Linked DNA regions of Homo sapiens. The protein of the gene in region 1 purifies or fractionates together with the protein of each later gene. This does not show direct contact. Each region holds a gene or a part of one and is shown in the gene's direction. Other genes may lie near its edges. The genes, in order: KIFAP3, RAP1A and GAP43.

Region 1 (3,737 bases):
TTTGGATCCTTATGATAATATATTTTTAAACTATTTATGTGTTGAGACATTGTGTTTCTCCTTTTTCTTAGTTATTTGCACTGGTTTCTTTTTGCTCTTTGGACATATTTAAGACAGTTGATTTAAAGTCTTTGATAAGTCCAGTGTTTGTGCTGTAGCATGGACAGTTTCTGTTAATTTTTTTTATTGTGAGAATGAGAATGAGTTTCTTGTTTCTTTGCATGTTTCATATTTTGTTTTGTTGAAAACTGGGTATTTTGAATATTATGGTATCCAAAGGAAAAAAAGAAAAGAAAAAAATACTCTTCAGATCTTTGTAGGTTGACTCAGTGTTTGGATATGGCTTCAACACTTAGCCAGGCAATTTACAATTTTACCTTAGCCTTCATTTGCTGCTTGCACAGAGCCTGAAGACCAGCCAGAGGTAAAAGCTTATGATCTTCCCAGGTTTTTTCTGGGTATGTATTCTGCCCTGAGCATGCTCATGGATTTCTAGATTTCTCTTTATATGCAATAGCTTTTCAAAGCATCTATTCCCCCAAAATGTCTGACTCCCTGGACTTTCCTCTTGGGCTTTCAGCTTGTGTTTTGTTTGACCCAGCTATTACTATTTATCCCAGGGGCCAGCAGCTTGTATGCTTGGCTTTCACTGATTTCAGTGACTGCATAGCTGCACTATCCTGATAAGAGTTTAAAATTAGTCAAAACAAAGGAAAGCCCCTTGCAGCTGACCTCAAAGGAAACTTCAGTCAGTTGCAAAACAATCAGACAAAATTCCTTGGGAGCAAGGTCCACTTGACTCCTCTAGAACCAAGTATTAACAGTGGGAACGTGGGCTGCCATCTTGAAGACTGCCACTGTGCTTGAGAGTGGGGTGGATGTCTAGGGTAAGTGAAAAGACCATAATGATCGCCTACCTTGTTTCTGTAACCTTTCTTCTGATTAAACATTCACTTGGTTGCTGTAAACCTTTGACTGTCTTCCAGAGTTCTGATGAGGTTGATTGTGATAGGTTTTTTTTGCCAAGTTTTTAGTGCTTCTGGGGAGTGCCAGCCTCTAGAGGTCCCTACTCTGCCGTTTTCACTGATGTCACTTAGCCATTATCTTTTCATATATTGCTCTGTACCCATTCTCTCTCACCTTTTTTCTGGGACTTCAAGTACATATGCTAGACCTACTCAGTATGCATTGCTGAATTATACTTTTGCTTGTGTTTTACATCTTTTTGTCTCTATGTTTTATTCTGGGTGTTTTCTTCTGACTTATATTTTATGCCATAAATTATCTCCTTACCCGTATCTAATCTGCTATTAAACCTATTTATTTATTATTATTCTTAATTTTGGTTATTGTATTTTTAATTCTAGAAATTTAAAAAAATTATCTAGTTTTTTCTGAAGATGACTATTCTTTGAGTATCATATATAGGAATATAAATGTATAAATAATCATTTGAGGCTCAGGATGATGTTCTCTTTTTCCAGAGAAGATTATATTTTATTTATGTTAGTAAGGATTACTGAAAATTTAGGGTCACCTTAATTAGTTCTCAGAGATTCAATTACATTAAACTGGGCTTTTTAGTCTTGTTGGTGACCGATCTGCATCTGTTTCACAGTTACTCCTAGGAGGTAGTCCTCCTGTTTCAAGCTTAAAGCTTGGAGCTTTACCAGAGCCACTGTTGTTTGGTGCACTCTAGAATCCAGTTTTTGTGTCTCTAGCCTCATGTGATTATTAAAAGATTCTCAACCTCTCAGCCCTCTCTTTTCAGTTAGCAGATACCTCTAGGGAAAAGTAGCCTCAAATTCAAGATTTACCTCTCTTCATTTTCTTTTTCTCCTGGATCTTGGCACTGTAATTTTTTGTGCCTTTTTAGTTCTCTTATGGCCTCAAACAGATACACACATACGTGTTTTTGCCCCCAGCTTTTAAGATTTTCTTAGAAGGTGCATTGGTTTGAATTACCTTAATCCTCTGTTTCTCTATTACCAAGTCTAATGTTAGTAATAGAAATATAAAACTTGTTTTGGTTTTACCAATATGAAAAGCATCAGGAATTATAAATATTTGAGTACATATAAGAGATTATTTCCCTCTTAATTTTTTAAAAATACATATGACTTGAAAGCAAAAATTATGAAATTTTTGTGTGAGTTTATAAGGTATGTACACATAATGCATATGACAGCTATAACATAAAGAATGGGGGGGGGGGTGTAGGCAATAGACCTGCAATTTGTGAAGTAGCACAGCATTAATTCTTAAATACCTTGTGAAAAAAAAAAGGTAACTAAAACATTGTTTTTCCTAAAGCAACCACCAAAAACAGTTTTTAAAAGTATAGTGAAAACATCTACACAAAATGGAATTTAAAAAATAATAATTCACAAGGCTGTTAGGAAAATAATCAAAGTATAGTTGGGCCAAACAGGAAATAAAAATGAAGTGATAGATCTGAATCTAAGTATGTCAGTCATTGCATTAAATGATCCAAAACAATAATGTCCAATAGAACTTTCTTCCCTGATGGAAATGACTTACAGCTGCATCATCAAATACATAGCCACTGGCTGTATGGCTAATGAACACTTTGAACGTGGTTAGTACAGCTAAGGAATTGCATTTTTAATTATTTTTAAAATGTAATGTATTTAAATTTAATTTTAAATAGACCCATGTAGCTAGTGACTATTGTATCAGACAGCATAGGTTTTAATGTTCCAATGGAAAGGCAGAGATTACCAATATTTCTTTTTTTTTTTTTTTTTTTTTTTTTTGAGGTGGAGTCTTGCTCTGTCGCCCAGGCTGGAGGGCAGTGGCATGATCTTGGCTCACTGCAAGCTCCGCCTCCCGGGTTCACGCCATTCTCCTGCCTCAGCCTCCCAAGTAGCTGGGACTACAGGTGCCCGCCACCATGCCCAGCTAATTTTTTGTATTTTTTAGTAGAGACAGGGTTTCACCATGTTAGCCAGGATGGTCTCGATCTCCTGACCTCATGATCCACCCACCTCGGCTTCCCAAAATGCTGGGATTACAGGCGTGAGCCACTGCGCCCGGCCACCAATATTTCTTTTATAAAGAAAAAAGAAAAGCAAGACCCAACTATCTGTCATCCCCAAAAAATATACTTTTAAGTATGGACATGGTAAGTTAATGGTAAATGGGTGCAATCAAACAGTAAGCATAAGAATGCTAAAATGACCATATTAATGTCAGATAAAATAGGCTTTAAGAAAACGTATACTGTAAAAACTACAGAGGAGTATTTCATACTGATAAAATCTGCTACATCCAGACAGTTTTAAAGTCAAATTCTAACAAAATTTTTGGGAAACAGATGCTTCCAATTATGTACAACTCTTCCAAGAAGTCTAGAAAAAAAAGGATACTCCTCAACTAATTTATATTAAGATTTTAGAATAATCTCCATATGAAAGTCAGAAAAAGGACATTAGAAAGGAAAATTGCAGGCTGAATGAGCAAGGATGCAAATTTAATCTAACAGTGCTTTAAGACAGCATTAACAAGTTGTGCTTATTCTAAGAATATGAGTATGGTTTTATGTATTTAATGAATTTGATGTAGTATATTTATGAATTAAAGAAGAACAATACATGATCCTCCAATGGATGCAGAAAAACATTTGATGACATTCACTACACATTCATGATTTAAGGAAAAAACTAAAGCCATAAATAAAAGGGAATTATGATATAAACATATTAAATGAGGAAACT
Region 2 (3,600 bases), about 58 Mb from region 1:
GCCACATCCAGTGTTCAAATTCTCAGTCCTTATCTTACTAATTTCAGCAGTATCTGATAAGACTCTTCACTCTCTCCTTCCTGAAACAATTATCTTGTTTTCCAACGCTTCACCTTCTCTTGGTGTTTCTCCTGCCCTGACTGGTAGCGCCTCCTTTTCTACTTAACCTTCAAGTGTTGGAGTGCCTCTTGGTCCTTTCCTTCAGCTATCTCCCCTCCCCATGTGATCCTAACTAGACTTAAGACTTAAAAAGTATCTATTTGCTAATGAATCCCAAATGTATCTCTCTAGACTCATATATCGATTGTTTATTCAATATCTCCATTTGGATGTATAACAGACACCTTAAACATAACATGTGTAAGAAAAGACTCTTGATTTCCCCATCCCCAAATCTGCTCCTCCATTTCATTAAGTGGCACCGCCATTAACTCAGTCATCAGGCCCGAACCTAAGAATCAACTCTTGATTTCTTTTTGTTCTTTCACACACTATGCCCCAAATCCAAATCCATTCCAATCAAAATGTATCTAAATAAAATAAAATAAAATAAAATAGCCTTCTTCTCATCCTGTCCGTGGCTGCCAGGCTAGTTAGTCCAAGCTACCTTACTGGTATCCCAAGGACATCTGTGCTTCTCCATTGTGTATTTTACACACATCAGCAAGACTAACTTTTAACAACATGAATCAGATGCGGTCATTCCTCGGCTCACCCTTCTCTCATGGTTTCCCGTTCCTGTTATAATGGCCCACAGGCTTCACTGGATCTGGCCAAGCCTAGCTGGTACTGCTCTCGGGCTGGCTGACGCTGCTCAGCCATGCCGGCCTTTCACTGTTTCTGCAACATGGCAGGCGTATCCCCACCTCTGGGTTTATGGCTGATTTTCTCTCAGCTTGGAAAGGCTATTCCTCCTCCAGGCCCGCGTGTTTGCAAGACTTATTCCTTCATCCCGTGTGTATGCGCTCAAAGGTCTTCTTTGAGAGGCAGTATCTCACCAGGTGTAAAGTCACCCTATCCTCTGCTTTATTTTTCTCCACACCACTTATCACTACCTGCAATTTTTGTCACTTGTTTGTTGTCTGTCTCCCCTCTCTCACTCCACCAGCATGCAAGCTGCAAGAGGGTCTTTGCCTGTCTATGACTTTAAACCTCTGCGCTTAGTTAGAACAGCGCCTGGAACCTAACAGGTGCTCAATTAGGGCTTGTCGAATGATTGAGTTCCCTCCAAATTCTCTTCTTGAATCTTTGGACCCTTCCTCATCTTTTTTCCGGTCTTACCCACCTCCCATCCCGCCCTACGCAAAGCTAAAACTCCCCGCCCCTTCCCGGTAGCTCCAGGCTTTCCCGGCTCCAGTGTGCGCGGCTCCTTTAAGCGGACTCCGGAACGCCGTGGGGAAGGCGGGGCCGAAGCCCAGCCATCGCCAACTTGGAGGGGCGGGGCAGAACCAGGGGGCGGGGCCTGCGTGGTGCGTGCGTGCGCGTTCTGGAGGAGGCGCCGCCGCCGCTCCCGAGGCCCCTGCCGCCGCCGCTCCCGCTGCTGTCGCCGCGCAGAGCCGGAGCAGGAGCCACGGCCGAGAGGAGGGAGGAGGAGGAGGAGGAGGTGGAGGAGGTGGAGGAGGTGGAGGAGGCGCCGGACCGGGGGGGTGAGTAAGGGGCGGGGAGCTCCAGACGGCCCCAGAGGGAGCGGGGGGCGCGGGTCGGCCGAGCCGAGGGTGAGGCGGCTCATGTCGCCGGTCAGTCGCCTGGCTCCCCCTTCCTCCTCCGCGTTCCATCGGTGTCGGGGCGGCGGCCCGGGGGCCTGGCCGGCGGGAGGGGCCGGAGATCTGGGAGGCCCGGCCGCCGCCAGGGCCAGAGCCAACCACGCCCGCGGACCGACCCGGTCGACTGTAGGCCTGCGGGAGACCGTCGGGAGGGGCCCCGGCCGGCTGTGGGAGAGAAAGAGGACATTGTGTCCCCCACCCTTCAGCTCCCCGAGGTGTCATAGCACAAGCCCATTTCCCTCGCCGTCTCCCCAGACACGGTGCCCTCGTACCTCACTGCCTGAGAGAAGTAGAAGGTTGGACATCGCTGCCTTCCTCCTCTTGCATGTCCCCTGTCTAGGGTCAGAGCTTCCTTCAAACCCAGCTCTCCCTTTTGGGCCCGCGGGGGCGGGGGGGAGGGACACACGGGGAACGGGGTTGGAGGGTTGGGTGAATTCTCTGTCCTCTGCTGTAGGAGTGCGGGTAGACTGGAGCATTGCTGTCTCCGGGCTCACTTCTGTCAGGGTTCAGGGTCTCCCTTTCCTTCCTTTATTCCCCCAGTTAATAGGGCTGACATCTACATCCCACTCCACCTTCCAGCCCCTTTCCCGCCTTCTTTACCCTCATGTCTTCCGTAGCTTACCATGTGTTCGCCTTTTCAGTGTTACTTTTCATGGGTCTCTGCTTCTTCCCTGAATTTTGTTAGGGAAGAGGTCACGGTGTGATTCTTGTTATCCTTCAAACTAGCGGCTTGGTAAGAGTATCTCTTGCCCCCTTAATCAGGAAGTTAAGGACGGTGTCTTCAGCCGAGTTGTGTAATTTACTGCTACGGGGAGAAGATGAGAGGAAGACATTTGTGCCTACAAAATGGGATCTCCTCTTAGGGCTGAGAACCAGAGTTTAGGGAACCTTTGACCTCTTGGAAAAAGAACTGCCATTGAGGAGTAATGCATTCTGTTTTGGGAGGGAAAATCATTTTGTTACTTCTTTGAAGGGAGGAGGTATAAGAAATGAAATAGAATAATAGAGCAGAAGGTCAATGAGCCACAGCCCTACAGGTAGCCAGCCACTCTTCTTAGGTGGCGGATGATGTTTTTGTTTTGATTACAGTAAGAATAAAGTATCAGCTCTTAGATTTAACTTGGGGCTCCTACCTTCAAAAGCATGAAGGGCCGTCTCAGAAGAGATGCTGCTGGAAACAGGATTTGGAAACTTTCTTTGGGTTTCCTGTCAGAATGTGTGGGGGTGGACATGCCTATGTGTAGTTTTTCTTTCCTTGTGATGTAATTTATTTCTGTGATACTTTGACATAATAAGCATTAAATTAGGCCCCAGACTTTCTGTCTTTATTATGCTTTCCTATAACATTGTTGTTTTGAAATCATATAGTTCGATATTCTTTTGTAGCGTGATATTTCAGTGAATCCTGTCTAGTTTTCTTGGTGTTTTAAATTATGGCCTACTTCAGATACGATTAGCTGTTAGGTATTGAGGATCATACGTGTTAAGTATTTGTTGAATGAATTGAATGATTACAAAGATGAGTCTAGTTATTAAATCTTCTGTCCTTTTGAGAGGTACCCTATATTAGGATACTGCAGTCCATTTCCAGTTTGTAAGATAGTAATTCTTAACCTTTTCTAGGCCACTGACACCTTTGAGAATATGATGAAATATATAAACTCTCTCCCCAGAATAAAGTTAATAGGCATTTATTCACAAAATTTTGCATTAGTTTTAGGGACCCTCTGAGGCCAACCATGAACTTATGTCTTAGAAGTGAACTGGATGGAATCCCTCAGTGTTACACAGTTCCATATTAAAACAGCTCAAAAGCCTTTGTTCACTTTTTGTATGG
Region 3 (2,474 bases), on another chromosome or scaffold:
TGTCTTTTTTTTTTTTTGACAGAGTTTCACTTTTGTCCCCCAGGCCGGAGTGCAATGGCAGGATCTCTGCTCACTGTAACCTCCGCCTCCCAGGTTCAAGTGATTTTCCTGCTTCAGCCTCCCTAGTAGCTGGGATTATAGGCACATGCCACTATGCCCAGCTACTTTTATATTTTTAGTAGCGACGGGGTTTCACCATTTTGGCCAAGCTGGTCCCGAACTCCTGACCTCAGGTGATCCACCCATCTCAGCCTCCCAAAGTGCTGGGATTACAGGTGTGAGCCACCGCACCCAGCCTGAATTTTATTGTCTTTTAAAGGTATATTATGAAAGGCTTTAAGGAGAGCAAGGATTTTGCTTTTTTTTTTTTTTTTCTCAGTACCTAGAAGAATGCCTGGCACAGTGCAGGTGTCCAGTAACAACTTATTGAACAAATAAATTAATAAATATTTACATTTAAAATACTTTGAAGCATTTGAGAAAATGAATATATATTGAGGCTCTCTCAATAGAGCTTCATAATTTCCTGTCATAATAAACAGATTTGTGCCAAATTTCGTCTTTTGTCCTAGGACCAGGCAATGGATGACAAGAGAAAGTGGGAGAATTTGGGAGGATTTAGCTTGATTGTATTCCAACAAGGGAACAGAAAGTGTAGCTGCATCTCAGAACCATCTGAATGTTCAAGTTTCTGTTTCTGCATTTTTGAGTTTTATTCCCTTTATTCAACAAACATGCAATTCTCACCTTTCCCAGTCTACTTCCCTTTTTCTCTCATTTCCTAATCTCCCTCTAAGCATACATAATAGCTCCCATGTCTTTATTTTGGAAGGAGAGATTTGAAGTCTTCTCTTGTTCCTATAACTACTATCTTTCTATATGTTTCTGGGTTGTGTAAATCAATATTATGTTTATTTTGCAGTTTGAAAAGGGCACTAAAAACATTGCTTCTTGGAACTGATAAGGATGGTAAACTACCTTGGGCATACTTGTAATATCCAAAGGTTTGAGCAGGGTTAGGGAACCAAGCAAACTCTCCAAAAGAATTCCTAATTGTTTTAGAAGGACTTCACTGAAATAAATCTGGAATCTTTCTTCTGGTAGAAAATTAAATACCTCATTAGCACACCAAAATTTTTGTAATTCCTGAGGAATACTGCTGATGCATAGTGTATTATAATGATCAGAATTGAGTTAGTTTCATGCAAAACTTGGATAGGTGCACTGTGTTCAACAGGTAATTACAGTCACTTTGGAAAGCTATAGCCTTAAAAAAATCTTATAAGTAGTAGTAGGTAGCATCACTAGAATAGCTATATTTTATGAATAGCTTATAGTGAGTTATGAACCCTATAAAATAAGTCAGACTTTAAAACCCTGGTCAAAAGTGAGTATTATAAGGTAAAATTACCCATCGTAGCTGCTTACTTTATTTACCAGACTAGTCTAGTTAGATTCTAAAAACCTAACCTATTTTCAAAAAATAAGCATTTCTGCTACTGAAGAGCTCTAAAAGAATGTTTTTTGATAGGTATTTCAGAGAAGAAATTCCATAAATTTGTTTAATAATGGTGGGTATAAATGTTCAGCTTCATCTGAATGTAAATATGTAGCTGGCTGATTTAAAAGAGACATACATTTTGATGAGCTCTTTTAATGGTCTCCTTAATGACCCCATTTCTCTAATCTCAACATCTATGTACAGTAAAACTATTTTATTTAGTATTCCTAGTTTAATCTCCTCAAAGCATAGCTGTATTATGTTCCTTGCTCAAGTGCTTTCAAGCTATGTCTGTTATCTTCTAATTAAACACAAATTTGTTAGCCTAACAAAATTACATGGACTCCAGTTTACCTTTCCAAGAATAATCAGCACCTAGTAGTTGTTAAGAGGAGGACAAGCAATAACAATAGCTCCATTTTAAGACAGAGGCATCGTCAATATCAGGGATTGAGGAAAAAAAAAAACAGTTAATACAGTAGGCCTGGGACTGCTATCCTTAGAAAGGCTTGTTTGTAAAGTTGACCATTGGCTGGCATCTGGGATCTTGGATTTTGAGAAGATTCTCATCATTCCTTAACTGATAAGAGTGGTTCCAGGTGCCTAAAATCATAGTACAAACAATGTGGTTTATGCTGAACATCTATTTTTCTTCTGGGAGTCTGAATTTTGTACCTGCTTGCTGGAGGGTGCCTACATGACCTATTACCAGTGCAAACTCACTCAGTTAAACTTCCCTAATAGATGACATCTTCCATGTGTTATGGTAATTTATTGCTGAAAGAATTAAGCACATCCTGGGTGACTCCATGGGGAGAAGACTCTTAGAAATTTGTTTGGTTTCCTCCAAACTTTGCCCATGCGCAACTTTCAGCTTTGCTTATTTTGCTTTGTGTTTTTTCGCTGCAATAAATTTTAGTTATGAAGCAGACTGCATGCTGAGTCCCATGAGTCCTCCTAGCAAATCACTGAA

Evidence for each region.
Region 2: the proteins of KIFAP3 (region 1) and RAP1A purify together in Homo sapiens (affinity purification with mass spectrometry; 2 studies listed by BioGRID and IntAct, with this or other methods). This does not show direct contact.
Region 3: the proteins of KIFAP3 (region 1) and GAP43 purify together in Homo sapiens (affinity purification with mass spectrometry; 2 studies listed by BioGRID and IntAct, with this or other methods). This does not show direct contact.

The regions. Positions count from the first base shown.
Region 1 is NC_000001.11:170,064,654-170,068,390, reverse strand, and holds part of KIFAP3 (kinesin-associated protein 3), read left to right. Parts: exon of another isoform or gene 1-887; intron 888-3,737. UniProt on the Homo sapiens protein: Involved in tethering the chromosomes to the spindle pole and in chromosome movement. Binds to the tail domain of the KIF3A/KIF3B heterodimer to form a heterotrimeric KIF3 complex and may regulate the membrane binding of this complex.
Region 2 is NC_000001.11:111,618,289-111,621,888, forward strand, and holds the start of RAP1A (ras-related protein Rap-1A precursor), read left to right. Parts: upstream 1-1,500; 5' UTR 1,501-1,646; exon of another isoform or gene 1,647-2,110; intron 2,111-3,600. UniProt on the Homo sapiens protein: Counteracts the mitogenic function of Ras, at least partly because it can interact with Ras GAPs and RAF in a competitive manner. Together with ITGB1BP1, regulates KRIT1 localization to microtubules and membranes.
Region 3 is NC_000003.12:115,717,312-115,719,785, forward strand, and holds part of GAP43 (neuromodulin), read left to right. Parts: intron 1-2,474. UniProt on the Homo sapiens protein: This protein is associated with nerve growth. It is a major component of the motile 'growth cones' that form the tips of elongating axons. Plays a role in axonal and dendritic filopodia induction.